Linked DNA regions of Homo sapiens. The protein of the gene in region 5 purifies or fractionates together with the protein of the main gene of each other region. This does not show direct contact. Each region holds a gene or a part of one and is shown on either strand. Other genes may lie near its edges.

Region 1 (2,980 bases), on a different chromosome or scaffold from region 5:
CGCCAGCTACTGAACGAGGAAAACCAACCTCATGAACATTATCATTTTAGAGGTTCTACAACTGATTCATGTTTATTGTAGAAAAACCAGAAGACGTTAAAAAAATTAAAATTGCCTAAAATTCAACCCCCCCCAACTCTTAACATTTTCATGTATATCCTTCCAGACAATGTTCCATGAATGTGTGTGTGTGTGTGTGTGTATACTTACAAAAACAGGATTCTACTCTGTATGTGTGGAAATGATTTTAACTTACAGAATATTGTCAAACCTTAGAAACCTGGGCTTGAGCACTGGAACTAATAAATACTGTAGCAGCGTCGTTCCTCCTCTGGCCTGCTGCAGAATGTTGAGGCCTTTTTGTCTGCCACCAGTGCCAGGTGCTTGTGAGTCTGTTATTTAATTTCACAATGAAGGTATGAAAGGAGTAAATGAGTAATATGCATTTTTGGACAAAGAGGTCGAAACCTTTGTGGAACACAACTTTCAAGATGGAGATATATATTCACGAAGCTTTATTGCAGCTGTTTCCCTTACCCAGTTGAAGTGGCCAGTCATTTTAATTTGCAGTTCTATTTACATTCCCAAGGTAACCACGTTCAGTAACTCTCTAGAGGCTAAGCTGTTAAAATTTCCATTTTTATACAAATAGCAAAGATATTTCTTTCTCTTTCTTTCTTTCTTTCTTTCTTTTCTTTCTCTCTTTCCTTCCTTCCTTCCCTCCTTCCTTCCTTCCTTTCTTTCTTTTTGTTTGAGACAGAGTTTCGCTCTTGACCCCGAGGCTGGAGTGCAGTGGCCTGATCTTGGCTCACTGCAACCTCTGCCTCCCGGATTCAAGCGATTCTCCTGCCTCAGCCTCCCGAGTAGCTGGGATTACAAGCACACACCACCACGCCCGGCTAATTTCACCCGGCTAATTTTTGTATTTTTAGTAGAGACTGGGTTTCGCCATGCTAGCCAGGCTGGTCTCAACTCTTTACCTCAAGTGATCCGCCCACCTTGGCCTCCCAAAGTGCTGGGATTACAGGCATGACCACCTCGCCTGGCCAAGAAAAATGTAACCTTGTAAATAGCACAGCGTTCTCATAATGGAAACAGTTGCAAAGAACATAAAGTACAGCTGCGTTACATGTAACAAAAGATGCAAACAAAATAGATTCAAGTTGTTTTGCAGACAGCACAATGATACAATATTAGGACTACAGAATCTCAGAGTAAACCACAATGATTTAAAGGTAAGATACACAGAAATAAAATGATTTTAACAGAAAAATATGACATTCCTGACCTTAGGTCTGGGCACATGATGTCTGACCCCTATAGAGGCACCTTGGCTAAAATGGGAATGACCTAGTGCCATGGCTGACCTCACTTGTGCGTTGCTGAGCCCATATGTGAACAAATCCCCTTGATACAGCACCATGGTAGGCATGAGAGGAGAAGTGTTTTAACTATTCTCTTATGAATTGTAACCAACCCTTATTATCTACTGATGGATGGACAGGGGGTGGGGTGATCATACAGGATGGCAGACATTCCAAGTACTCTTCACCCCAGTGTGGACGGAACAGAATCTGGCTACACGGTGGCCAGTGATGGACTGCTGGGAAATCTGCTGGCCTGTGGTCTGAGTTCCCCTACTTGCTCAGGCTGCCCCTCACTCCCAGTGTGCCAGGGAGGCTTAGTCCGGGGAGCATCAGAGCAGAAGACATTCGGGGCTCATGGCTCCCATCCCCACTGGCCTGTATCTTCAGCACCCTCTGGCCACCACCAGCTTTGGCTCTAACTGCAGACTTTGTTCTTGGTGAATTGCTATAGAACTGGGAATGAGGTGTGCCCTGGGCACAGGGGCACTGCCCCACCAAGGTGGTGCCCACTCCACTGCTGGGAAAACGAAGTTACCTAGCGGAGCCTGGAGCCCACTGGGTGGTCACTAATTTCAGCACAGGCAGTGCAGTGTTTGTGCTTTTTTTTTTGGAGATGGAGTCTCACTCTGTCACCCAGGCTGGAGTGCAATGGCGTGATCTAGGCTCACTGCAACCTCCGCCTCCCAGGTTCGAGCAATCCTCCTGCCTCAGCCTCCCAAGTAGCTGGGACTACAGGCACACGCCGCCACGCCTGGCTAGTGTTTGCTCTTAAATACACAAAATGCACTGAACCAGCAAAAACAAAGTCCCAGGTCTGAGGAGCTCTGAGGATGATGCCTGTGATGGCCTCTGGCCAGCTCTCCAGGATACTGAGAGAGCAGGTCAGGGGAGGCCTTCTCCAGGCTGGGCAGTGGGAAGGCCCTCTGGACCGGGGGAGTGAGTATTCAGGGGACAAAGGCACTACCCGGGTCTGGAGCCGCCACGGAGCCAGGGCACAGCCTAGTTTGGGGGATTCCTCTGTCACTGGGGTAGGATCTCCCAACAAGAGGCGGCTTTATGTTCCACTCACGAAGAGGCCAGAGCTCTCAGATCTTCCCCAAAACCTAATCAGGCCTCTCACCAGCGTGTTGGAGGCCACTCCTGGCCATCATCTCCAACTCTTTACCCCAACCTGGCACCTTGTAGGGGGCTAGAAGGGTGAGGGGAGGTGTCTTTCACTTATGCTTAGGTCACTCTTAGAGGACTATCCTCAAACTTGAGGTGACAGGGAACTCTTCACGGGGGCAGGATTTGATGTTTTGTTTTTAGCCATGTTTGTCAATGACAATGTCAATTTCTAGTTCCAATTTGTACCCTTGTCTCATTTCTACATTAAAAACAAAAAACAATCATCTGTCATAAAAGTTCAGAGTAAGCTGGGTGTGGTGGCACATGACTTTAGTCCCAGCTACTTGGGGGGCTGAGGCAGGAGGGTCGCTTGAGCCCAGGAAAGTTCGAGTCCAAGCTGGGCAACAGAGCAAAACCTTGTCTCTTAAAAAAGAAAAAAAATAGAGTTCAGAATAGATAAAAGAGTTGTTATTCTAAGAAAATAGACTACTGAAGGAGAAAGGCTT
Region 2 (3,500 bases), on a different chromosome or scaffold from region 5:
CGGGCGCCAGCACAGGAGCCTCAGACTCCCAGTCAGGGCTGCCGGCCAGGGAGGCGGGCTCGGGGAGGAGTGGAGAACCCACCCTGGGGACCCTGCATGGTCACAGCCCCCTGAGCAAATGACAAGGGTACCTTCCCCTCTGCACAACACGGCACGTTTTCCTCCCGAGGGCCAGACCCCCCAAGGCTGTGGGTGAACTTGTTCCTGCAGCTGAACCCAGCTCACCCTGACTCACACAAGCAGAGCTGGGTGGATGTTTACCCCGCCCTGTCTGCAGGAAGGAGGGCGACAGCCACCTAATGTGTGCGAGGAGGAGGCGGCTGGGACAGATGGGATGGCCTCCACATCCTCAGGCGATGTGAAAAAGCCAGGAACGGTGCGGGTGGGCAACGCAGCTCCGCTGTTCCCAAACAGGTGTGAGCTGGTGCCGCACAGAATGGGTAGGCCGGTCCTTTGTTTCTACAAAACGCGTTCTACTTCCGTTACTCAAAACCCAGGCCTGGCGTGGTGGCTCATGCCTGTAATCCCAGAGCTTTGGGAGGCCAAGATTGGAGAACTGCTTGAGGCCAGGAGTTCAAGACCAGCCTGGGCAACATAGCAAGACCCCGCCTGTACAAAAAAGTAAAAATTAAGCAAAAAAATTAACCAGGTGCAATGGCTCGCACCTGTAATCCTAGCACACTGGGGAGCCGAGGTGGGAGGAGTGCTTGAGCCCAGGAGTTCAAGACCAACGTGGGCAATAAAGGCACTGTCTCTCCCAAAAATTTTAAAAATTTTCAAGATTCAAGAATCGCTTGAACCCAGGAGGCGGAGGTTGTAGTAAGCCAAGATCACGTCACTGTACTCCAGCCTGGGCAAGAGAGGGAGATTCTGTCTCAATAAATATATAAGGCTGGACGTGGCCAGCACTTTGGGAGGCCGAGGTGGGCAGATCACTTGAGGTCAGGAGTTCTAGGCCAGGCCCTGTAAAGCCACGCCAGCCTCCGAGGACCCCTCACTCCCCTCACCTCAGCCAATGCCCGCTTCTCCTCAAGGGTCCCATCCTCCTGGGCCTGACACTGCTTACTGCCCCTCGGCGATGTTGGTAATGACACCGTTCCCACAGATGACACGCCTAGCGTTCGCCAGCACTCAGGCAACATTTAGAGTCCCCTGCACAAGAACTCAGACCAAAGAGGTTCACCCTTGAGAACTCGCCCTGAAGACTGGCCCACAGAGGATCAGAGAGCATGGGTATTGTTCGCAGGACTGGCTCAGGGCACCCAAGTGATCCTAGTGGGGAGCACTCCAGGAACCCACCACCAGGTGTGCTTAGGGTCCAAGGTGACCCCATAGATGCATGGCTCTCCCTCACTCGCTGCCCACAGCTCTCCCCAGTGTCCGCCTGGACGACGGCCCGGGCAGGGAAGGCTGTCTCCCAGGAAGGCGGTCTCCCAGGAGGGCTGCCTCTTGGGAAGGCTGTCTCCCGGGAAGGGCGTCTCTTGGGAAAGCTGTCTCCTGGGAAGGCTGTCTCTGAGACTGGTCCACCTTCACCTTTGGGAATGATCTGCTTGAGGCCCATGGCAGTTTGGGTCCCTGCTGGGGCACACCCAGACGGTGCTCCTGGAAGCCTCCCGTGAAGGCGCCTGGAGTCCAGGGTGGTGGGGCTGCCGGCTGGCCTGTGCCACACGTTGGCAGGCTCTGCCTCTTCCATGTGCAACAGGCCTGGGCTCACATCAGAGAACTCAGGCCAAGAACTCGGGCTGGGGTAGGGAGCTGAACTAGCACCTACCGAGGTCAGAATGACACCGCGGAAGCTCTTGTCATTCTCCAGCTTCTCCAGGCTGATGACCAGCTCCGTCAGAAACTCCAGGCTCAGGCTGTTCACTGGGGGGTTCTTGAATTTCATCACAGCGACCCCTAATTTAAAGAATGAGAAGAGAAAGCTCACACCTGGCACTGGAAAAGCAGCCTGACCAGCCTGCACCCTCAACTAAGCCATGATAGCTGTGCATTTTGGGGGTTTTATTTATTAATTTATTTATTTAGAGACAGAGTCTCGCTCTGTCACCCAGGCTGGAGTGCAGTGGCGCGATCTCAGCTCACTGCAAGCTCTGCCTTCCGGGTTCACACCATTCTCCTGCCTCAGCCTCCTGAGTAGCTGGGACTACAGGTGCCCACCACCACGCCCGGATAATTTTTTTCTTTTAAGTAGAGACAGGGTTTCACCGTGTTAGCCAGGATGGGCTCGATCTCTTGACCTCGCGATCTGCCCACGTCGGCCTCCCAAAGTGCTGGGATTACAGGCGTGAGCCCCCGCGCCTGGTCCTATTTTTATTTACTTTTTTGAGACGGAGTTTTGCTCTTGTTGCCCAGGTTCAAGTGCAATGGAGCGATCTTGGCTCACCGCAACCTCTGCCTCTTGGGTTCAAGCGATTCGACTGCCTCAGCCTCCCGAGTAGCTAGGATTACAGGTGCGTGCCGCTACATCCAGCTAATTTTGTATTTTTAGTAGGGACGGGGTTTTCTCCATGCTGGTCAGGCTGGTCTTGAACTCCCAACCTCAGGTGATCCGCTCGCCTCGGCCTCCCAAAGTGCCAGGATTACAGGCGTAAGCCACAGCGCCCGGCCTGGGGGTTATTTTTTTATTATTATTATTTTTGAGACAGGGTCTCACTCTATCACCTAGGAGTGCAGGGGTGTGATCTCTGGTTACTGCAGCTTTGACCTCCTGGGCTCCAGCGATCCTCCCAACTCAGCCTGCTGAGTAGCTGGGATTATAGGCAAGCGCCACCACACCCAGTTAATCTTTTTTATTTTTTAGTACAGACGAGGTCTTATTTTGTTGCCCAGGCTGGTCTTGAACTCCTGAGCTTAAGTGGTCCTTCTGCCTCAGGCTCCCAAAGTGCTAGATTACAGGAGTGAGCCCTTGGTTTTTTACATTGAAGTAAGATCGATATAACATAAATTAACAATTTTATTTATTCTATATAAACTGCATGCTTTTTAAATCAACCATTCTCTCTTTCTCTCTCTATCATTTTTTTCTGAGACAGAGTCTCGCTCGTCGCCCAGGCTGGAGTGCAGTGGCGCGATCTCAGCTCACTACAACGTCCACCTCCCGGGTTCAAGCGATTCTCCTGCCTCAGCCTCCTGAGTAGCTGGGACTACAGGTATGCGCCACTATGCCCAGCTAATTTTTGTATTTTTAGTAGAGATGGGGTTTCACCATGTTGGTTGGCCAGGATGGTCTCGATCTCTTGACTTCGTGAACACCTCGCCTCGGCCTCCCAAAGTGCTGGGATTACAGGTGTGAGCCACCATGCCCGGCCAAATTAACCATTTTCTATCTTTATTTTTTTTTTGAGACAAGAGCCTCGCTCTGTTGCCCAGGCTGGAGTGCAGCAGCGCTATCTCGGCTCACTGCAACCTCTGCCTCCTGGGTTCAAGCCATTCTTCTGCCTCAGCCTCCTGAGAAGCTGGGATTACAGGACACACCACCATGCCTGGCTAATTTTTGC
Region 3 (3,969 bases), on a different chromosome or scaffold from region 5:
AAGGGAGAACATCTATCCCCATATTTAACAAACAAGTAAATACCCAATTTGTCTTTAGCTTTTAGTATCAGTATAAAAAGAATTTATAACTAGGCTTACATCCAAAGAAACAGATTCATTTACATGAAACCACAATAAAACCTTAAAAATATATTTATGCCTTTAAACATGGGAGGTTTTTCTAGATTACTTAGGTTGGGCAAATTTGTTTTGCTTATGATGTTCCTGTAGGATATCCTAACAAGGAAAATCTTATTAATTTTCCTATAAATTTAAAATATCTACATTTTATAGCATTGACAATAAATTATCAGTTCATTCTAACCTTAGAATATATAGACCATGTACTATGAAACCATTAAATACTAATAGCTGCAGACATACCAGACAATGACAGCAAAAACACACTCAGCCCCTCTGGGATCTGTTCATAAACATCCCCTTCCAGCATGGCAAACACACTCCTCTCAACAGCAGATGCTGTTCTGGGGCTAGCAGGCAGGAAGCTGGAGGCAGCTGATTTTCCCACTCTACATATAATTTCTTACTGCCTCACTATCCAGAATCGTTTTACTGAAACTGTGAGGATTTTTTAAGAACAGGAGCCCCTCAAATTAAAGACACTTTGCAACAGCAGAGGAATGACAGGCAAATGAGGAAGCATGAAGACTCTCTAATATTTAAGGTCACACCACCTTTGTCATCTGATTTTCTAGTCCCATTGTAGGGGAGAGAAAACCCAGTTTGCTCCACATAAGAAAATAAGCTAATCCAATACTTTATGTCAATTTTAAGAGTGTGATCAAGGTAGAGAAGGAAATACATACCAGAGGCAGCCAAACCGCTACATCCAAAGCATCCAGCCCCTAAAATCTAATGGTTCTGAAGTGGAGTCAGAAGCTTGTGATATACTTATATATTTATTTGTTATATATTTGTAACATATATGCTCACCTAAAGTAGAAAATTCACAGAAGCTTCTCTGAGAGAAATGGTCCTTACTGCAACTATTTTAAATATGTTGATAAGCATTCTGTGTTATCTTCCAGGGTCCGACAACTAGCCGATGAGGGATAGAAGGAGATATTGGATGTTGTGCTGGCAATGCCTGGTGCACTTACACTCGTTTTCCTTCCACCTGAACTGTAGTCTATCCCATATGACTTAGCCTGCTTCCTTGCAGTTTGTTCATAAAAGTTATCATCAACATGGCCAGAAGCAGGCAGGGCTGCTGTACAGACACTGTCAGGCTCTGCACCAAAGGCAGCCCATGTAAACAACCTTGTGATTGCTTCAGAGCCTACTGCTGTGGCATAAGCCATTCTTTTTCTGTGGCTAAATTGCAGTACCCTGGGAAGTTATCTGTTTAAGGGGGTAAAAGCAGAGACTAGGTCTCTAGATTTAAATGTTTGGGGAGGGTGAGAAAAATATATGGATAGATAGTTTTCTTGTAATATCTATAGCCTGATTTACTTACAGATTTTCCAGTAAATTACATTTATTTTGTTGAAGGCACAAATACATAGATTCTAACAAATATACTGCCATACTTATTTCTGATTTTTTTTTCAAAAGAGCTCTGACATTTGCAGGGGACACAGTATCCCAGCACAGAATACCTGGGAATCTTGCCATGAAAAAAAGAAAGCTGACTGCTGTGACTAGGAGATCACTTTCTTAAAGGGACCCCTTACCTATTTGACTGCAGTGCCAATGTTTCCTCTTATCTCTAACCTGACCCCTGTTCTGTGTTCCTCTCCCCGGCTCAGATTTAGCCTAGAGTTGCTCTGCAAGAGTAACGCCAATAGTTTTATATCTAATATATATATAAATACTGTTCCTTAGTAAAATACATCTTAAAATATTTAAATTATACTTCTCACAAAAGTAAACATAAATACATACTAAAAGACATTATTTTTAATGTTTTATGGAACCCATCACATTTTTCAGATATGGAACTAAGGTCAGCACTTCTAACAAGCACAGCTGTTTGGTGTTTTTTTTTTCCTCTCTCTCTCTCTCTCTCTCTCTCTGTGTGTGTGTGTGTGTGTGTGTGTGTGTGTGTGTGTGTGTGTTTCTCTCTCTCTCCCTTCCCTTCTGTAGCCCTGCATTGGTCTAAAAACCCCTGGTCACAATAAGAATGCTCCCTCCCTCCCTCTGCTACCCCTCACTCCAAATGGAAAGGTTTCAACACGCCCAAGTCTGGAAAGAGATGTTCTGCACAGAGGGAAAAACTGGTAGCTTCTTGCTTCAAAGCTAGTTCACTTGATTAACCTGCTTTCCACCCCACCTCTCTCGTCTCTTCCATACTCCCTCTCCCGCCCCACCAGGAGCAATCAATAGACATCACCCCACCCTCCAAAAACAGGTTAGAACCCAGAACGAGCAAAGAGCCACCTACCATTCCGTGCCTGAGAACTACGATCCTGATCCGGCAGTGTTTGCCCCAGAAATCCTCCCTACTTGTTTTTCATTAACCACATTCCAGACTAACATGGAAGAGATTCTTTGGAGATATGGAGATTGTTTAAAATTAACGATGGACAGGTGATTTCCAAGAAAACCCAATCTTAAACTCACTCAAGCCCCTAGGAATTGAGGGGTGAGGACAAAAAAGGAAATTTGTAAAAATGAAAAAAGAAAAGAAAAAGGTAAGCATATAGCAAGCACCACCCACCCCCATAAAAATAAAAAGTGAAGGGGAGGTTAAAGAAAATAGAAGAAGAGTGGCTTGCTGAATCACCCTCTTTCACTGCCTGGAAACCATTGTGCAGCGTGATGCTGCCTGTACCATTGTGGAACCTACCAGAGGAGACGGACAGAGGGCTTGGGGAATGGGGTTGCTATGGCAACCGAAAGGAGCACACATGACGTCAAAGCCCAGAGAGGTCTAGGGAGGGGGATGAGGGGGAAACAGAAAGAGGAAGCGTCTATGTGCAGCTACAGCTACTGTGTTTTCCGGTGAAATGAGGACCAGGCAAATGTAAAGGAATAAGGTTCGTCGGCAGCCAACATCAGCAACTACGACATCAAGGCAGCCAGCCTGCACAACCTGAAGAAAAGATCCATTCGATGCAGTTCTGGCCCTTTGCACAGCAGCACGGAGGAGCAAATACCAGCAGAGCAAAACACCACTGGAAATGCAACCTCTGCTTTTCAACTATCTCTTGTAGTATCTCTAAACGTCAAACAAGTAAGAGATGGTAATAACCTCAGAGGAGAAGCAGGCATTTGAGTGTCGCCTGAACCCCGAGGTCATCTGCACAGCACTATTCCTCTTCTCTGTTTCCTTGTTTTTGTAAAAATCCTGAATAAATATCCACTAAACCAAATTCAACAGACTAATACTTAGGTTGCAATCTGAGTGTACAAAGAAAATACTGATTAATTTGAGTTAACACATCAGAATTCTTTTTTTTTTAATTGCAGATAATTTTCTAGAGAACTGATGAAAATTGTACTGTTACTATTTGGGGCAAATATCGCAATTTTATTTCAGTAATTTGCTCTGCCTTTAACTGTTATAGGGTATTTTTAAAGTCTCCAAACAGTTTTACTATCCATAAATAATAGTTTCTTAGAATGACAACAGTTGACTACTTGCACTATAAAAAAAAATTAGGTTTACCAAATTTGTTTTACCTTTTTTATGTAAGAAAAATTTTCAATACAAATTTCGCTTAAACCAACTCCAGCCTTTGGACTTCTCAAATTACGTAATCTAATTCAATTCCTTTTTTGCTTACACTCTTTTGAGGTGGGTTTCTGTTTATTGCTACCAAGTAGTGCTGAGTTGTAAATGATTCCACATTATGTTTTAGAACTAGCATACTTATATGAATATGAAGCTTCTTCCATATGTTACCAGAAAGATACAACATGCAAGAGATGCAAACTCAGCAGTACTGTAGACACTGAAACACATCATAAAGCTGTAAGAAACGCATACGTTTTTGTTGTCTTTGT
Region 4 (3,126 bases), on a different chromosome or scaffold from region 5:
CTTATTATCTTAGCGATGGAACATCTTTTATTATGTGTGTGCTAGGGCTAGAAATGATGAGGGTCGAGGTTTTCCAACTGATAAAAGGATCCTATTTCTAAAAATGATTTGTTAACTACAAAATTATAAAGGATCCATGGCTTGGTCCAAAATGAAATGTGGCGATGTGCTGGTGTTGGATTTACTTTCCTAGGCAGTAGGAAGCAGAAAAGAGCAAAGTAGGTTGGGGCAGATATCTGTATTTTGGGAGTCTTTCCAGAACTTACCAACTGCAACCTGAGTTGCACTGGGCAGTTACAATGCTGCTGCCAGTTACAACTGGATTAACCAGTGTCTCCTGGTTCCGGATAAGGGTGAATAAAGCCTTCTAGAGGACAGAGTGAGAAGAGCAGCACAGAAATCTTTATAGAAGAACTGGAATTAGTTATCTGGCCTACTCCTTAGTACAAGTATTTCAAACCTAAAGAGATAATCTGTAAGACCACTGATAAACTCATTTTACGCTCTAGTGACCAGGTTATTTACCTACAGAGATTGTATTAGTTTCCTACTGCTGCTATAAAAAATCACCACAAACTTAGTAGCTTAAAGCAACACTAATTTATTATATAGTTTTGGAGGTCAGAAGTCCTAAAATAAAGGTGCTGACAGGGCTGCATTCTTTTTGTAAGATCCCAGGGATAATCTGTCCCCTGGCCTTTTCTAGCTTCTAAAGGCTGCCTGTGTTCCTTAGCTTGTGGCCTCCACCTTCAAAGCCCGAAGTGTAGAATTTTCGAATCACTCTCTCTGATTCTGACCCTCCTGCCTTTCTCTTCTAATGACCCTTGTGATTACACTGGGCCCACCTGATAAATCCAGGATAATCTCATCTCAAAATCCTTGAGTTAATCACACTGCGAATTTCCTTTTGCCATATAATGTAACATATTCACAGGTTCCAGAGATTAGGATGTGCACATCTCTGATTTGCCATTATTCTGCTGAACACACTTACCTTGCAATTGTCACAAGAGTAGGATTTGGTAAATTTTTCAGCAAATAATGCACAGATTGAATAAGACACTCTATTTCTTGTTCTGTGCTGATATGGTGAGGAAGTTCTGAATAATCGCAGGTTAAACCAGCCTGGTGAACCTGAAAATAAGACAATTAAAAATTACACTGTATGACAGTTGTTTTTATAAGCTTCTTTAATCATTAATGGCCTTATTGACAAATCTTTACTTTTATTGATACATAAAAGATGTGCATATTTTCAGGGTACATGTGATTCATAATAGCATATAAAGATCAAATCAGGGTAACTGGGATATCCAACACCTTAAATATGAAAAACTTTTAATTTTTAATATTTTTATGCATTGGGATTATTTTTTCCTTAACAGTTTCTATGTCATAAAAGTTATCTGCTCTCTGAAGTGTTGGTAGAACTCGCCTATATGCCTGTCTGGGCCAGATGCCTCTTTTTAGAATAATTCTTTAACTACTTCATTGGGCTTGGGTCAATTTTGGTAATTCACATTTTCTATCAAATTATCCATTTCATCTAGATTCTAAAAAGTTGAGGCCAGGCGTGGTAGCTCATGCCTGTAATCCCAGCACTTTGGGAGGCTGAGACAGGCGGATCACCTGAGGTCGGGAGTTGGAGACCAGCCTGACCAACATGGAGAAACCCCGTCTCTACTAAAAATACAAAATTAGCCGGGCGTGGTGGCACATGCCTATAATCCCAGCTTCTCCTGCTAAGGCAGGAGAATCACTTGAACACGGGAGGCAGAGGTTACAGTGAGCCAAGATCGTGCCATTGCACTCCAGCCTGGGCAACAAGAGCGAAACTCCGTCTCAAAAAGAAAAAAAAAAATTGTACATATTCTTATCTCATTTTTAACACATTATTTTACTTACTTTTTAAATATTAATATGTGCACCTAGTACTACATTCAAAGCTTTGAGAGGATACAAGAGAAAATATTTATCCTACCTTATTTAACCAAACTGTTTTCTTGTGTATCCTTTATGTATAACCATAAGCTACTGCTATCTACCTATGTGTTTTAAATTTGAATGGAATATGTTCTAGTCTTAGCACTACACTAAACTTGCCTGAAAGTTAGAAGTGGCTCACATGCTACCATTCTGCAACCTTAACTTTAATGTTTTGAAAACTGGAACTTAACTATGTCATAGTTTTGCCTAGAGTACGCAAGTGCAAAGTATGAAAAAACACACTAATCAAATATTTTATTGGAGGCTTTGGATACACATCAACAATTTAACTGGCAATGATCAGTCAGTGTGATAAAAGGATGAATTCTGGATGTTCATTTTGCCAAAATGATAAAACTATTTAGCGTTCTATCTCTGCAGCTGTAGGGCATATCATAATGGATTACATAATCTGTGACTGAGCCCTAGCCATTCCCTGCCCCCCAAAAAACATCAAACCCACCCAACGAAAAAAACCCAGATGCAATGTAATGATTAAAGCAGACCTGCCTGCAGACATATTTGATAATATTGTATGAATTCAAAGCATTTTCTTTCTCTTTTTAAATTTGACACAAAGTCTCACTCTGTTGCCCAGGCTGGAGTCCAATGGCAGGATCTCAACTCATTGTAACCACCCAGGCTCAAGCAATCCTCCTGCCTCAGCCTCTCAAGTAGCTGGGACTACAGGTGTGCACCACCACACCTGGCTAATTTTTGTATTTTTTGTAGAGATGGGGTTTTGCCATGTTGCCCAGGCTGGTCTCAAATTCCTGGGCTCAAGCGATTTACCTGCCTTGGCCTCCCAAAGTGCTGGGATTACAGGTATGAGCCACTGCTCCTGGCCTCAAAACATTTTCAAACCTTAAGTATCTTATAACGATCTTCTTAATTACCATTTTTAAAAAGTGTAAGTCTTGGAAGTGTTTATTCAGGGCAATTTGAATATATGCTCCCAGGGGAAAAAAAAAAAAGTTAAACAAAAAAGTTTAAGTCTTGGATTTGCTTAGGTTTCACCAAAATATTCTTTTGCTTTGCTCATTATATGGTTTGGCTGTATCTCCACCCAAATCTCACCTTGAATTGTAACTCCCACAATTTCCATGTGTCATGGGAGAAACCTGGTGGGAGGTGACTGTG
Region 5 (3,166 bases):
TTCCTGAATCAAGTGTGTGTAGTGGAACCGGTGGTCCAGCCAGGCACTCAGAAGCTCATTCTCTCACCACCATGCTTTCTGGTCTTGACTTGGAGCTAAATACCGTGTGCTGAAGGGAAAAAGTTGAAAAAGAGAGATGCTTACTTTTCTTGAAATACTGTTGACTATGAGAAGTAAACTTCATCTGTAAATTTTTAAGATGAAAATTTACATCAGGTTTTTTTTCCTTGGTCCACTGGTGGGTAGCCAGTAGATGTAGTTTAGGTGAAATCACTACTCTCTCTACCCCTTCTCCTTCCCTACCTGTTTATCTAATTGGTGTTCCTTCAAGGAAGCTTTCTTAGGGATGTGTTAGAGTCTAGAAATGTCATTAAGAATCTGTTCAGGTAGTGCCCACATGCTATTGTCCTGAGCTTTTAATATATTTGAAAACTTAGCAAGTCTTCCTCTTTCAATTGCTCTGGATTTTGAGCCATTGCTGGGATTCCTCCATCTTCTGCATTATTGCCACACTGGAATGTCATACATGGAAGCAAACGGGATTGAATGCTTGAGAGGTGACACCCTCGGCCTGTATACTACTAGCCTTTAGTTAACTTTGCAACAACTGGATTTTCTGGGGAGAAGCTGAACATAGTATCTTCCTAGTTAAGCTTTATTCCTTTAACCTTAATCAGGGTTTAGTAAGACTAAAACTCTTATCCATTTAATGCCCGTTCCTGTACAGAGCAATTCTATAGAATAAAGAAAGTGTTTTTTCTCTATTACAAGTGAGAGAGTTGTTACTAGCACTAGGTTTGTTAAGTCACACAACCGAAAATTGGAATTAACATCCTTAATCCAAAGAGGAACTGCATATATATATATATACACACACACACACACACATACACACACATACATATACATATATATGTGTGAGTGTATATTTTCATGTGTGTGTATAATTTTTCCCCTTCCTCTCTCCTTTTCCTTCATTCTTTTTTTTTCTTTCAGTAGTGTAATTCCAGAAAAAAAGAGAACAAGACATTTGAGAGAAGGTTCAGTGACTGTTAGAGTCGACTTGATCAGTAGCTTGTTCAACGTGAAAGTTAACTGTGTTATAGGTCTGGCTTCCGGCCACTGCTGTCACCTGTGCAGCAAACTGTTCCTATGAGCAATTCTTTCATTTAATCTTCTCTTTAAATGTAGATGTATAGCTTCTTGTTCGTGCTGATATCAACTTTAGCCAGTTCTGGAAGTTGTGACATAAGTATACGTAATGAACTAGTGGATTATACTTGGCTTTAAAACTGTTTTAATTCATTATTTCTATACAAAATAAGGCATTGCAAAGTTGAGATGAAAGTTTCTCTCTCCGTGCCTCTCTCTTCCATCTTCCCTTCATCTCTTGTCTTTCTCCCTTTTTTCAGAGGAAGCTCACCAGTGTGGGAAGGGGCTTCTCATCCACTGCCAGGCTGGGGTGTCCCGCTCCGCCACCATCGTCATCGCTTACTTGATGAAGCACACTCGGATGACCATGACTGATGCTTATAAATTTGTCAAAGGCAAACGACCAATTATCTCCCCAAACCTTAACTTCATGGGGCAGTTGCTAGAGTTCGAGGAAGACCTAAACAACGGTGTGACACCGAGAATCCTTACACCAAAGCTGATGGGCGTGGAGACGGTTGTGTGACAATGGTCTGGATGGAAAGGATTGCTGCTCTCCATTAGGAGACAATGAGGAAGGAGGATGGATTCTGGTTTTTTTTCTTTCTTTTTTTTTTTGTAGTTGGGAGTAAGTTTGTGAATGGAAACAAACTTGTTTAAACACTTTATTTTTAACAAGTGTAAGAAGACTATAACTTTTGATGCCATTGAGATTCACCTCCCACAAACTGACAAATTAAGGAGGTTAAAGAAGTAATTTTTTTAAGCCAACAATAAAAATATAATACAACTTGTTTCTCCCCCTTTTCCTTTTAAGCTATTTGTAGAGTTTATGACTAAATAGTCTGTGCAGGTTCATAGACCGAAGATACTACACACTTTAAACCAATTAAAAAGAACCAAAAGTAAATAGAAAAGACATTGAATCACCAAGGCCTGGGATCAACCTGGGCTGTCCACACAGAAAACAAAAACCCAACCAAACCAAGCCCTGTTGTGCTCACTGGTGCAAAGAGAAGATCAGGGCAGCTTAAGTGGTCTAAGAATCCTTCAGGCATTCTTTAAGGAGAAAAAGGATACCTTTGATTTTGTGTGTTTCATGCTCTGGATTTTTTTTTTTTTTCCTTCTCTGGGTTTAAGAGATTTTTTTTGAAATAGTGAGGAACTGACCATTATATGCCTTCACTGGCTTCTTGTGCAATAATATGATGTTTTAAGTGTGCAAACAAGTTAGAGCTGGCAGCTGAATGATAGACAAATAGTGCAAATTTGCCAGCTTGGAGATAGAAAGGAATTCAACAATATATCAAATACTTTCCTTCCCACCTTTTTCCTTTTTTTTTTTTTTTTCTGATTTGATTCTGGTTACAGTGCCATAAACCTTGTTACATATGTATATCAGAATGTAAGAAAAAAAAATTTATTTAAAAATATTTTTCGCAAAAAAAAAAAAAATCTTGGTGTGTTTCTGTTGATTGTGTAAAAATTTATTTTCATTATATAAATGAAACTGGTTTAGGATGTGTCTTTTTTTCCCCTCTCTTTTACCTTAACTCAGGTTCAAGCCTTTCTTAAGCTCTGGTAACTTGCATATACAACAAAGTTGAAATAAAACAGATTTTTATATAGGGAAAGAGAGATGAGGAAGGGAACATATCCAGTTTTCTCACTGTGAAACAGAGTTAGCAAGGAAGTGGAAGAGCTCCAGTATTGATCTGCCCAGTCACTGTCCCTTATATTCTCACAATGCTGTCATCCTCTCCTGCAAATATCATTCCTTTTGCATCGGGGAAGGCTTGCATTAAGGGGATCCCATCTGCCTTTGCGCCTTGGTGACCAAATCCCTGCCAGATTGATTGGTGAGAATTCAGTGATCTCCCTAGTGGCTATTTGATAAATACTTAGGACAATCTTCCATTTAGGGATCTTGATGTTCCTCCCCCCACCCCCCCACCCCATTGTCACTTGCTCACTTGGCATCTTTGGTGACATTAACCATGTAATGCGTTGCAGC
Region 6 (3,500 bases), on a different chromosome or scaffold from region 5:
CATTTAGTCTCAACCAATATTCTGGGTTACTACACATTAGTAATCAGGCATTTATAACTGATTAGCTATCCATTTGCATTTTCTAATTGGGTCTCTCTAGTATAAATTATTAACTATTTGGTGGAATTAATATCTGAATTTTGCAGAAAGTCTACAGGAAGAAGACAGCTATGGTGGTGCTGTATATAACTGAAACGTGCATCAATTAGATAAACCTAGTGCTGAAGGAAACAGTCCTTCTTCCCTTCTTGTATTCCATCCACAACCTGTCCCCACTTGGAACACACTGCCCACCTTCTTCTATATCAAGATTAATACTATCACGTCCTTGCATCCCTGCTGGGCTCCATCAGTCACCACCAGAAACCTAAACCTCACAAGGGTATCCTTTACCTGTTTACTCCTTAGACTCATCCTCATATTGCCATGTATACTGCCCAGTCTTGCCCAATTCCCTCCCTACCACTCTCCTAAATTCTTCATTGTGCCCTCTGGAACTCCCAATCTGGGTCAGCCAAGTTCCTTCCATATTTTTAACCTTTCTTTTAACCACACCAAGTTCTGCCTCAATGAAAACATGGCTAATTCCCCTATACATCCTACAGATTGCAGATGACTTCTTTTACAGCTCACATGCCACAGGCCTAGAAGGTGAGAAACTGCTTCTTGCTCACACTGTCTGTCACCTACAGTCCTCTACTGCTCCTTCCTCCTTCAGCAACCCCACTACCTTTGAAGCTCAGGCCATCCAACTATACTACTAAAAATAGCCTTCTTGTTGCTACAGTCTACCACCTTCCTAATTCCCCTTTCCTTCAGTGAAAATTCTGTATCCTTCTTTTCCACCTCAGTGCCTGTATTCATGTTGATATCCCGTTGAACACTCTGGCCTCTCAGTTATGTGACCACCACACTACTCACCCATCCAAAATCTGAATTTCCAGCACAGTACTATTCTGCTCCTCTCTAACCGTCCCAGTTCAATTACTGTAGTGGTCCCATGGTAACAAATCTTTAACCTTTGGTTTCTCTAATTTTTTCTATCCTAAACGCTTTTTCCATTGCCTATCAGCCCACCTCTCATTTCTCATTCCTCTTTACCCAGCTTAGACTCCAGGGCTCACCACTGTCATCACTCCCTTGTCATGTCTTTCCTTTGCATGTCTTTCCTTTCTTCTTTCTCTCCATCCATACTTGAACCCCATCATGCCCATCTCCAAACCTGAGAAACTGAATACAAAGAGAAAAACTACAGCGGAGTTCACTAATTTCACTTTAATAGCTTGAAACTTCAAATGGGCAATCACTAGGGCCTGCTAATCTTTCCAATCCTTACTAGCAAGTTTCTTTTCCCACCATGAGAAAAAAAAAAAACAAAAAAAAAAACAAAGAAAGAAACTATTTCATACCTTCTGCTATCTCAAACCTCCTAACCAATAACCAAGTCTTCTCCCAGTCTCATCTTATACTTTGCCAAGAAAATAGAAGCCATTAGAGAAGAAAGCTTTTCCCAACACCAAATCTATAAGCCCAACACTGTATGGATGGGCACCTATCTTCTCTCCTGCTAAGATGGAAGAAGGATTAAAGGGCTCCCTCAAGCTCTGGATCCCAGTGTGTCTCTCACCTACTGATGACTTCACTCCTACCACTACCCTCTGTCTCTCCCCCGAGTCCAATTTCTCCCTCTGAATGGAATCATACCCATCAGCATAAAAATAAGCTTTATAATCTTGGTCCTCTCATCCACAAACCAAATAGAAATAGAACACTAACATGCCATTAAACAATGAAAACTTTAAGATACAGTAGCATTCCACGATACAACCATCAAAAGATATTTATGGGATATTCAGGTTTTAAGAACTTGGTTTTGTTAAGTTACCAATACAGAGAAAGTTAAGTTTGGCAGAGGTAGTTTATCCTGCTAACTAGAGGTTAAAAGTCCAACCATTCTAATGGTTCTACTAAATGGCCTTACCACTTTTGCTGTTTGGACAGGAAATAATTCACATATTACAAATCAACAATGTTTATAAATGGGTAACATACTTTCATTGTGGAAGAAAAAAATACTGGTTACCTTACAGTGTTTCAAAGCTTCTTTGTATTCTTTGTTTCTGATTGCATCTCTAGCACTTTTTAGAGCAGTCTTCACTTCCTTGCTGGACATTCTGTCAAGGCAGAAAGCCTGAGTAAATCTACAGTAATACCTACCCAATCGTAAATGTTCCAACAAACTTAGCCATCTGAAAAGGGACCCTGGAAAAGGAAAAGACTCCTTCTCTCTGGAACAGTCTTCCCTCTAGAATATACACAGTTTATTCCTTAACCTCTTCAGATCTGTACTCAAATGTCACTTCCTCAATGAAACCTTCCTTTGACATGCTATTTAACATTTTAATCTTGCCATCCCCCTACTCTCAACAACCCATTATTTCCGGAACCCCTTCCATTGCTTTATTTTTCTTGAAAGCATTTGTCACATTTAATATACTATATATTCTACTTATTTATCCTGTTTATTTTCTGGGTCCCAACCCCACAAGAAGCTAAGTTCCATGCAGGCAAGAATTTTTTTTTTCACTGCCGCATCCCCAGGACCTAGTATCTTAAATTATAGATGATCAATTAATAAGTGTTGAAATTGAGTTATATTTTATTTACATTCATTCTCTATATATTTTGGCTAAAATACAAATGATCTTGTTGATCAGGACTCAAAACACATACCAATCTCAATCCAACTCTCCCACTCTATACAAAGCTAGATCCAGTAGAATAAGCCCAAGTCACAGATAAAACACTAACACAAATAATTTCAGTGACTGTGATATGAAAGTTTAAGAAAGCATTGTTTTAATGCTAGTTTCTGTGAAACATAAATCAAGATATTAACTTTCTTCACAATAAGGATTACTGTAGGTTTATTACCTGTACTTTTTCTAAAGAAAAACAATGTTTAAACTTGAATGGAAGCAATGGATAATGCAAAAGGGTTGTATACTAATTTCAGCCATAAAAAGATATTTTAATTAGTAGAGAAAGTATTTCTTCATTTAGTCTTAAGATATATTAATTTTAAATAAATTAGCATATTTTAAGATTACACAACTTATTCTGGCTTACCTATAAACAAGTCTAATTCAATCATAATTCAATGTTGAAAAAAAGAAATATTTGTATTTTCTGTCAGCTCCTCTAATCTCATAGAAAGGTAAAACAAAGCTGGGGTAAATATTAAGTATTTATAGGCTTCAGATGCTCAAGGGAGTAAAATGTACCAAAAAGATGAATCACTGACATGGTACACTGACAGTCCTTTATATCCAAAGAAGAAGCTAACACAGAAGTATGAGACCAAAGAAGTTTGAGAAGTTAGATACATATTTTTTAATCTTTTTGACTTAAAAAATGTTAGGATTCAAAATAATAGAAAAATTAAGATACCATAAAATCAATTTATCTACAGCTAGAACCAGATTCCCTAAATAGGCAGA
Region 7 (3,500 bases), on a different chromosome or scaffold from region 5:
GTGTATATATATATATATATATACACACATACATATATATACACTTATATATACATACATATATATACACACACACGCACACATATATATGTATTTTAAACTTAAAAAGCCTGTGCTTTATTTTATTCTACCATGTTTTCATTCTGTAACGTTTACTTACATATGACTTTATTTTTGTTTCTATTTTTCCATAAGTTATTGGGGTACAGGTAGTATTTAGTTGCACGAATATGTCCTTTAGTGGTGATTTGTGAGATTTTGGTGCATCCATCACCTGAGCAGTGTCCACTGCACCATATTTGTAGTCCTTTATCCCTCACCTCCTCCCACTCTTTCCTCCAAGTCCCCAAAGTCCATTATATCATTCTTATGCCTTTGTGTCCTCATAGCTTAGCTCCCACATATCAGTGAGAACATACAGTGTTTGCTTTTCCATTCCTGAATTACATCACTTAGAATAATAAGTCTCCAGTCACATCCAGGTCACTACAAATGCTGTTAATTCATTCATTTTTATGGCCGCATAGTATTCCATTATATATATGGTGATATATATATTATATGTATCACAGTTATATATATATATCACCATATATATATAACAGTTTCTTTATCCACTTGTTGATTGAAGGGCATTTGGGTTGGTTCCACGATTTTTCAGTTGTGAATTGTGCTGCTATTAACATGCATGTACAAGTATCTTTTTCGAATAATGACTTCCTTTCCTCTGGGTAGATACCCAGTAGTGGTATTGCTGGATCAAATGGTAGTTCTACTTTTACAGCCACTATGGAAAACAGTGTGGAGATTCCTTAAAGGATTATGCAATTTGAAACAGCTTCATTTGTTTACACGTTTTCATAAGGATACCTGTGAGACTTATTCCCAAGTCTGCAATGGGTAATTTTATTGCATATCTGAAGTTAGACATTTATATCATATATTTTATCTTAGTTTTTCAGGCTTTTTATTTTTAAATACAGCTTTCTTGTTTTGTAAACTATGGTTTATTATATAGTTATTCATTCATTTTCCTATTGTGCTTTCTACAGCGATTTGTAGAAATAGTTGTGGAGATGGATTTTGTTCCCGTCCTAACATGTGTACTTGTTCCAGTGGGCAAATATCATCAACCTGTGGATCAAAATCAAGTATGTTTCTTACTTGTGGCCTTTTCACTGCATTTTTCTTAAGCTTTGGAGCAAATGCTAAAGGTCCTTCTATGTGCCAGGGAGTTTTAACTGTTATTACTTTAGTTAATCCTTACATCAACATTATGAGATACTGTTAATACCCCATTTTACAGAATAGCAAAGTAAAGCACACATAATTTAATTAACTGGCCCAAGGAAACACAGACTTGAATCCAGGTATTCTGATGCCTAAGTGTATAGTCTCAAACACTAGACTGTATTTGTTGCCTTTGCTTAACATGTGTTTTGTGGGTTATCTAAGGGGGAAGGAGAGGAGAACTCCAAAGGCAGCATGTGTTTATTGAGTACTGACCACATACTTTACACATAATGGACCTATTTTGCTTCACATGTATTAACTGCCAACAACTTCATAAGATAATTATAACTGTGGACTATGATTGTGTGATTCATGACCCAATTAGAAATTGTTGGGTCCTTAAGGTCGAAGATTAATCTTTGAGGCTAGTATTTAAGATAACATTATAACAAGGCAGAAGCAAGATTGTTTATTTAATTGCTCAATAATTAAATAAATGCTTTCTTAAGTCTTGCCTCAAACTAGTGTGAAGTCATTATATTTTTAATACATCTTTCTTCAAATTTTCCCTAAAAGAAGGTAATATAGTATGTCTGACTCAGGAATAAGATTCAGGATTCATACATCAAATGCCATTGTCTTCTGATGAAACTCCTGATGAAAACTCTCTTAATTTCACTTCCTTTGAATCTGCCATTTCCTCAGCTTTTAAAACCTACCATTCAAATTCATCAAGATTTCTTGACCACTTTAACCAGAACATTTCATCCCCAACTTAACCTGAACCTCTCTTTCTTGCCTGATTACCTACAAGATACTGTTGCCAGTATGTTCATTATCCTGTTCCTAGTTTTCTCATATTTGCCTTTGGCAAAAAACACAATGCTGGAGGAATTTTAAGATTCAGTTTCTTAATTCCTCTACCTGGGAGCTGGGACATTCTCTGGTCCACTCTTTGCTTGTGGTATATAATTTAGCAGGGAATCTGTGCATTCATTTGGCCTTGGGCAATCCTTCCATTTCATCAGGAACTTTTCTAACCCTCCCAATCATCATCCTGTTTGACCTTGCTAAAGCTTTTGGCACTATTAATCATTATCTTCTTGAAATGTTGTTTTTCATTTTCTTTGAAACACCCTTGACTTTTAAAATGCCAGTGGCCTTCAGTGCTCCTTTTCTTGATCATTCCTTTTTAGTCTCTTTTCTATGTCTTCATCAGTCTTTCATTCAAGGTTTGGTATTCCTGAGTTCTGCCCTCCCTGGGTGAACTCATGTTTTCAATGACTACCAATCTGTTGATAACTCATAATATTTATCTACACTGGAGATCCCACCACTGACCTCCACACTCATATATTCCCTTTCCCATTTGACATCTCCACTCAAGAAATAGCAAGCAATTGAAACTTAGTAGCATGTCTAAAAGGAAACTGAATTTATTGCTGACCACAGGCTACTTGAACCACACAGTTCCTCCTGCCTTGGCAAATGGCTCTGCCATCCACCCAGTGCTTAAGTAACTGCTGCTTCTCTTTCTCTATGTCGGCTCTTTAAACAAGTCCTGTAGGCTTTACTGGAAAATAATTATCTCAGATTTATCTTTTCCTTTCCATCTCCACTGCTACCATGTGGTGTAAGCTATCCTCATCCTTCTCCCAGACTCTCGCCCTCTTCAAATCCGTTCTCTGCAGAGCAGCTAGAGTAATCTTTTTAAAATATAGATTACATCACTTCACTTTCTCATTTAAATCCTTTCAATGACTCCCTGTTGCATTTGGGATATAATGAAAACCCTTCGGTGGCCGAGGAGGCCCTGTGTTAGCTGGCTGGTCTCTGCCTGGGTTTCCAAGGTCTCTTCCCTGTCTGCCTCTTTTTAACCACAGGAATCTCTCCATTCTTCAGAAGAAACCTTTTACCATCCTAAGGTCTTTTGATTTGCTGGTTCTTCTCTCTCTGAAGTTTCTCCGTGGTACTTTTAATATCTGGCTTATTCAGTGTAAATGTCACCTCAGAGTGGTCTTGTCTAGTGCCAGTATCTAAGCTCCTTCTTGGCTCCAGACTAGTCTCCTTCACAACAGTTTACTTCAAACAGTTTATCACAGTCTATAATTACTTAGTGGTATTTGTTTACCTGTGTTTTCCGTAGCTCCCCATCGGAATTCAAGCTCTGTGAGGATAGCTTTCAAGTCCATTATGACAGTACTGCACTGAGCTGGAATGGTGGGCACTCACCTCCTGCATTCTGAATGGAGACAAAAGTGCCTCCT

Evidence for each region.
Region 1: the proteins of DUSP10 (region 5) and SAMHD1 purify together in Homo sapiens (affinity purification with mass spectrometry, with the first as the bait; one large-scale study listed by BioGRID). This does not show direct contact.
Region 2: the proteins of DUSP10 (region 5) and ECI1 purify together in Homo sapiens (affinity purification with mass spectrometry, with the first as the bait; one large-scale study listed by BioGRID). This does not show direct contact.
Region 3: the proteins of DUSP10 (region 5) and MAPK10 purify together in Homo sapiens (affinity purification with western blotting, with the first as the bait; one study listed by BioGRID). This does not show direct contact.
Region 4: the proteins of DUSP10 (region 5) and C5orf22 purify together in Homo sapiens (affinity purification with mass spectrometry, with the first as the bait; one large-scale study listed by BioGRID). This does not show direct contact.
Region 6: the proteins of DUSP10 (region 5) and SKIC3 purify together in Homo sapiens (affinity purification with mass spectrometry, with the first as the bait; one large-scale study listed by BioGRID). This does not show direct contact.
Region 7: the proteins of DUSP10 (region 5) and FBN2 purify together in Homo sapiens (affinity purification with mass spectrometry, with the first as the bait; one large-scale study listed by BioGRID). This does not show direct contact.

Annotation. Positions count from the first base shown.
Region 1 is NC_000020.11:36,889,729-36,892,708, forward strand, and holds the end of SAMHD1 (deoxynucleoside triphosphate triphosphohydrolase SAMHD1), read right to left. Parts: 3' UTR 501-2,980; downstream 1-500.
Region 2 is NC_000016.10:2,245,088-2,248,587, forward strand, and holds part of ECI1 (enoyl-CoA delta isomerase 1, mitochondrial isoform 1 precursor), read right to left. Parts: intron 1,900-3,500; coding exon 1,772-1,899; intron 1-1,771. UniProt on the Homo sapiens protein: Key enzyme of fatty acid beta-oxidation. Able to isomerize both 3-cis (3Z) and 3-trans (3E) double bonds into the 2-trans (2E) form in a range of enoyl-CoA species, with a preference for (3Z)-enoyl-CoAs over (3E)-enoyl-CoAs.
Region 3 is NC_000004.12:86,357,254-86,361,222, forward strand, and holds the start of MAPK10 (mitogen-activated protein kinase 10), read right to left. Parts: upstream 2,801-3,969; 5' UTR 2,405-2,800; intron 1-2,404. UniProt on the Homo sapiens protein: Serine/threonine-protein kinase involved in various processes such as neuronal proliferation, differentiation, migration and programmed cell death.
Region 4 is NC_000005.10:31,549,301-31,552,426, reverse strand, and holds part of C5orf22 (UPF0489 protein C5orf22), read right to left. Parts: intron 1,135-3,126; coding exon 995-1,134; intron 1-994.
Region 5 is NC_000001.11:221,700,924-221,704,089, reverse strand, and holds the end of DUSP10 (dual specificity protein phosphatase 10), read left to right. Parts: intron 1-1,412; coding exon 1,413-1,678; 3' UTR 1,679-2,666; downstream 2,667-3,166. UniProt on the Homo sapiens protein: Protein phosphatase involved in the inactivation of MAP kinases. Has a specificity for the MAPK11/MAPK12/MAPK13/MAPK14 subfamily. It preferably dephosphorylates p38.
Region 6 is NC_000005.10:95,544,978-95,548,477, forward strand, and holds part of SKIC3 (superkiller complex protein 3), read right to left. Parts: intron 2,175-3,500; 5' UTR 2,174-2,174; coding exon 2,084-2,173; intron 1-2,083. UniProt on the Homo sapiens protein: Component of the SKI complex, a multiprotein complex that assists the RNA-degrading exosome during the mRNA decay and quality-control pathways.
Region 7 is NC_000005.10:128,528,246-128,531,745, reverse strand, and holds part of FBN2 (fibrillin-2 precursor), read left to right. Parts: intron 1-1,052; coding exon 1,053-1,151; intron 1,152-3,500.